Linked DNA regions of Homo sapiens: region 1 is linked to region 2. The links come from fine-mapping of genetic effects on gene expression. A gene starts in region 2. The other region holds a variant in brackets. All regions are shown on one strand. Distances are between the middles of the regions.

Region 1 (2,912 bases), 760 kb after region 2:
GAATGGTGTCTTTATTTTTTGGGGCTGCTGTAACAAAGTACCGCACACTGGGTGGCTGGACAGCAGAAACGTGTTGTCTCCCAGTTCTAGGGGCGAGGAGATCAGGGTGCCGACAGGGCCACGTTCCCTGGGAAGGCGTGGGAGGAGGACCTGTTCCCCGCCTCTCTCCCGGCTTCGTCCGGAAGCCTGACTCCAGGCTTCATGTGGTGTTCTCCCTGCTGGTGGCTCTGCCTCTGTCCTGTGTTCTGCTTGTTATAAGGACACCAGTCGTATCGAATGAGGGTCCACTCTAATGAGTGCCTCTCACCTTGAGCACCTCTGTAAAGACGGTGTCTGCAAACGGGGTCACGGCTTAAAGTATTAGGGGTTAAGACTCCAACATATCTTTTTTGGAGGGACAGAATTTAATCCATAAATGTTTAAAAGTAGTAGAATACACAAAATGTGATACCATTAGCATAAAGTTTAAGGATACGTACATACATAACCGTCTAATGAAAAGGAAGGGAATGATAAAGGCTAGGTTTGGAATGTGACTCCTCTCGGGTTGAGGGAGGGAAAGGTGACTGGGGCTTCCCATGCCTGGGCATTCGTCTAGTTCTTTTTTTTTTTTTCCCCAAGACAGGGTCTCACTCTGTCGCCCAGGCTGGAGTGCAGTGGTGCGATCTCAGCTCACTGCAAGCACCGCCTCCCGGGTTCACGCCATTCTTCTGCCTCAGCCTCCCGGGTAGCTGGGACTACAGGCGCCTGCCACCACGCCCGGCTAATTTTTGTATTTTTAGTAGAGACGTGGTTTCACCGTGTTAGCCAGGATGGTCTCGATCTCCTGACCTCATGATCCGCCCGCCTCGGCCTCCCAAAGTGCTGGGATTACAGGCGTGAGCCACCGCGTCCGGCCATCTATTTCTTAAGCTCAATGGCAGATGCATAGGTTTGTTTTAATATTCTTGATAACATAAAACATACCAGTTAATGGAAAGTAGGGGGCATAGTGGGGGGTCTGCACAGTCAGCCCGGAGGATTCAACCTGGTGGTGGGTCTGGAATTTAAAAGGTATAAAAAAATTTTGTCCAGGCGCGGTGGCTCACGCCTGTAAACCCAGCACTTTGGGAGGCCGAGGCGGGCGGATCACCTGAGGTCAGGGATTTGAGACCAGCCTGGCCAACATGGCAAAAATTTGTCTCTACTAAAAATAGAAAAATTAACCAGGTGCGGTGGCACATGCCTGCAATCCCAGCTACTTGGGAGGCTGAGGCCGGAGAATCGCTTGAACCCAGGAGGTAGAGCTTGCAGTGAGCTGAGATGGTGCCACTGCACTCCAGCCTGGGCAACAGAGC[G/A]GGACTTCATCTCAAAAAATAAATAAATAGATAAAAGTTATAAAAACATTTTTAAAATAAAACATTAAAAAAACCACGTTATGGCAAAGCACGATGGCTCACACCTGTAATCTCAGCACTTTGGGAGGCTGAGATGGGTATATATATGTATATAACGTGTTATTTTTATTTAGGGAGTAATTTATAAGTGAAGATTTATTTATTTATTTATTTATTTATTATTTTTGAGACAGAGTCTTGCTCTGTGGCCCAGGCTGGAGTGCAGTGGCACGATCTCGGCTCACTGCAACCTCTGCCTCCCGGGTTCAAGTGATTCTCCTGCCTCAGCCTCCTGAGTAGCTGCGATTACAGGTGCCTGCCACCATGCCCAGCGAATTTTTGTGTTTTAGTAGAGACAGGGTTTCACCATGTTGGCCAGGCTGGTCTTGAACTCCTAACCTCAAGTGATCTGCTCGCTTCGGCCTCCCAAAGTGCTGGGATTACAGGCATGAGCCACTGCGCTCAGCCTAATAAGTGCAAATTTAAATAAAGAATCAGAGAAAAGAAGTGTAGACAACGCTTCGGAGCCATTTTGCTGCAGAGAGAAGGAAGGCAGCGGGTGACGGCTGGAGGAGGATGAGGGAAGCTTCCCTCTTTTGCACGTGAAGCACTAGGTTCAGAGGTTAAGTGACTCACGCAGGCTCACACAGCCAGCCTGGCTCAGCCTGGAATGGCACCCATGCCTCTGACCCCCAGCACTTTCCTGCCCTAGAGGTGCTGCCTCTTTCTTGTGGTCATTATCAGGGTCATCGGATGCTGCCCCTGCATCCGAGGTAGGGTTGGTCTCCCCTGCTCCTACCAGAGCTCCAAGAGTCCCAGAGCCTTGGAGTGAGAAAGGCCCACCCTGTGACCCCTCAACACACTTGTTAGAACATCCTTCTTGCTCGTCTCTTGCTGTGCTATGAGATCAGCTTCCAGAAGTGGGAGTGATGGCGCATCTCTGGTTTAATGCATGCTTATGTGTGTTGCAGAGCTATCGTGCTGTGTAACGGGAACGCTGCAGCCACTGGGCATTGGGTGGTCAGCCGGGGTAGGGGCCTGACTCTGCCATTTGCTCAGTTTGACCCTTGGTCAAGTTCTTCACCTTTTCGGAGGCTCATCTGCAAAAGGGGGCTAATGCCTGCTCCCAGGATGGTACCGAGGACTGAGCGAGCCCAGCAGGGGGGCTGCCTGCCACACAGCAGGCGCCGAGTGAACGAGTGAACGCAGGGGTTTTTCCCGGGCCCCGCCACCACTCCGTTTCTTTCACAGGCAAGTCTGGGTCTCATTGACCTCTCTGGGACCAAGTGCAGACCACCCACCACACACCGCCCCACTGGCTGAGGAGACTAGGACACGGTTTTCTTTTTCTTTTGAATGTTCCCATAGGTTATTGGGGTACGGGTGCTATTTGGTCACATGAGTAAGTTCTTTCGTGGTGATTTGTGAGATTTGGGTGCAACCATCACCCAAGCACTATACGCTGCACTCTATTTGTAGTCTTTTATCCCCCGACCCCCTCCCACCCTTCCCCGCAAGTCCCCAAAGTTAGGACCT
Region 2 (2,912 bases):
TCACGCAGCCTCAACCTCCTGAGCCTAAGTGATCCTACCCACCTCAGCCTCCTGAGAAGCTGGGACCACAGGCTCGCGCCACCACATCCAGCTAATTTTTTGTAGAGACAGGGTCTCCCTGTGTTGCTCAGGCCAGTCTCGAACTCTGGGACTCAAGCGATCCACCTGCCTGGGGCTTCCCAAAGTGCTGGGATGCCTAAGTGCCAGGCATGATTTGCACTTCTACCACTTTTAGTTACTACTTTAGACAGTTCCACATCCTGACCATTTTGAACTTAAAGCATCCTGTGAGATGAAAACTGGAACCTTCTGACTTTGTCTATTATTCATCTCCTCAGTCTAAACCTGTAGCTTTTTTTAGATGCTAATGCCATACTGTCATGTGGAATTTCTAGCATTCTGTGAATGGAATCCATATTAATATACTTTAAGCACTTACACCACAGTTATCTTAAACTGTAGGCTATTTATTTGGATCTTACTTACATGTGTGAGAAAAGTAGAAAAAGAAGATGCCTCCTTTCCATGTTCACAAATCAGTAACAGCAGTAAAATGAAAGGAATTTACTTTCTCTAATGTCTCACTCCAAAGTTCCGAAAACCTCTTTTTAACATACAATGACTATTGTCCTGTGGACTTTTTTTTTTTGAGATAGAGTTTCACTCTTGTTGTCCAGGCTCAAGTGCAGTGGTGCAATCTCAGCTCCCTGCAACCTCCACCTCCCAGGTTCAAGCGATTCTCCTGCTTCAGCCTCCCGAGTAGCTGGGATTACAGGCGCCCGCTGCTACCATGCCCAGCTAATTTTTGTATTTTTAGTAGAGACAGGGTTTCATTCACTATGTTAGCCAGGCTGGTCTCAAACTCTTGACCTCAGGCGATCCACTCGCCTCAGCCTCCCAAAGTGCTGGGATTACAGGCATGAGCCACCGCGCCTGACCCCGATGAGCCATTTTGGACCCAGGGCTTTGTCTGTCAGGTGTGTTGGATGAAGCCCAGTTATATGCTTAAGTCTCTGGCTTCATCCTGTCATCCCAATTTGGAAGCCCATTAAGAAAGTGAGCTCTGTTTTGTTTTTAGTGATCACTACATTTTCCCCTAAACTCAGAGAAAGATCTATGAGCACGTAAAGCATCAAGGTTGTGGCTTTCAACAGTCTCTAGGGGGTTATTAAAGAGGAACTCTCTCTCTCTCTGAAAACCCACTTATTTTTCACTACGAAGGATAAAAGGGCCCTTTGTCATATATTGGGTCAAGGTCCAGAGTCTACACTTGGGTTTAAAGGATGCACTGCTGAGGATATGGTGTGTGCAGGGAAAAGGGAAGCCGCTTGCGTGGCAGTCGGGCGTAGAAGTGACTTTGTTGTATGTGGTATAACTTTTGAGCCCTGTCTCTACTAAGAGTCTGGACTTCGCATAAGTGCTTCACAGAAGGTCGACATCCCCCTTTTTGGGCAAGGGATTTCTGGTAGGCTGGGATGAGAGAAGTTGATTTCCAAACCAGAATTAATGAATGTCTCTACCGTACTTAGAAATACTATTTAAGCAAGGCTCTGAAGTTGCTTAACTTTTGTCTCTATTTGAAATTCTAGGGTGACAATGAAGAACAAGAAAAATTACTGAAGAAAAGCTGTACGTTATATGTTGGAAATCTTTCTTTTTACACAACTGAAGAACAAATCTATGAACTCTTCAGCAAAAGTGGTGACATAAAGAAAATCATTATGGGTCTGGATAAAATGAAGAAAACAGCATGTGGATTCTGTTTTGTGGAGTATCCTTCCCATGGATCTAATGTAGCTGCTGAACCAGGGTAGAGCTGAGAGTGGTAGCTCATAAGCGTCCCTGCACTCGTCCCTACGTTTTCCTTCATCTCCCTCCTACTTTCCACCCAGTGTGTCTCTGCCCTTATACTGTAAAGCTGATACTATTTATATTCTCTTCTGAAATCCATGCTTTATGGTTCTTTAACAAAAAGTTTTTCAAGAATGTTTGCCCTTCACGTAAAAAAAAAAAAATTCCAAAGAATGTAGTGAAAATATAAAAATCTCGTACTGTTCTAAACCCCTAATGCCCTTTGCCAGAGGCAGTCAGTTACCAGTTTCTTGGGCGTCTTTCAAGAAGTAACCCTGTGGGTGTGCGGTAGTGTATTTCATGTGCTGTTTTTAAAATCATTTTTTTATTTTTTATTGTTCCATTTCAGCATATGTAGGTCTTTTTTTAAAATAGCTGTACAGCTGGGCATGGTGGCTGGTGTTTGTAGTGCCAGCTGCTCAGGAAGCTGAGGCAGGAGGATCAGTTGAGCCCAAGATTTCAAGGCTGCACTGAGTTGTGACTGTGTTCCAGCGGGGGTGACGGGTTAAGACCCCATCTTTAAAGAAAAAAACTTTTAAGTAAATAGCTGTATAGTATTTCATTATATAGATGTATATAACCTGACTGTATAGGTACAAACCAAAACTATTTACTTTGATCATTTAATTCCCTTACTCAGACTCTTTTAAGTATTGGACCTCTTGGATTTATCCTATGTTCTTTTTACTGTATGTTTTGGTCATTCAATTTAATATTCTGAGAAATTTTGCAGGCCCAATTTAATATATCTTTTGAATTTTTTCCTGTGCCCTGAATTATGTTTGTTTCGGTTGAAATTTTTCCTTAAGTGTCTGGTGATCCCTGGATTTCTGCTCATAATTAAGGAAAAGAATGCTGACTCACTGGACCCAGGCAGGGCTTCTCTCCCAGATTGCAGGCTTGCCTCGGGGATACACAGGTTTCCCAAATGCTAGAATGAAAAGAGATTTTATTTTGGCTTGCTAACATCAAAGATACTAGTTTCTCCAGATGGTTTATTCAGAACACTGTTGTCTTATTTTTATTTGTCTGAGATTAAATGTCTTCCCCTTTAATTAAAG

Evidence for each region. PIP is the estimated chance that this variant, and not a neighbour inherited with it, causes the effect.
Region 1: its variant is fine-mapped to the expression of NCBP2-AS1 in testis (GTEx, PIP 0.93).

What each region holds. Positions count from the first base shown.
Region 1 is chr3:196,175,010-196,177,921 of GRCh38, reverse strand. No RefSeq gene overlaps it. Among named protein-coding and RNA genes, the nearest start is that of LINC00885, 34 kb to the right of the region's middle. The variant G/A (reference allele first, on the strand shown) is at 1,338.
Region 2 is chr3:196,938,110-196,941,021 of GRCh38, reverse strand. NCBP2-AS1 (NCBP2 antisense RNA 1) reads right to left here and starts at 1,145. Exons shown (of 3, transcript NR_046630.1): 1 at 895-1,145; 2 at 1-48. It overlaps NCBP2 (nuclear cap binding protein subunit 2), which reads left to right. Exons shown (of 4, transcript NM_007362.5): 2 at 1,590-1,771.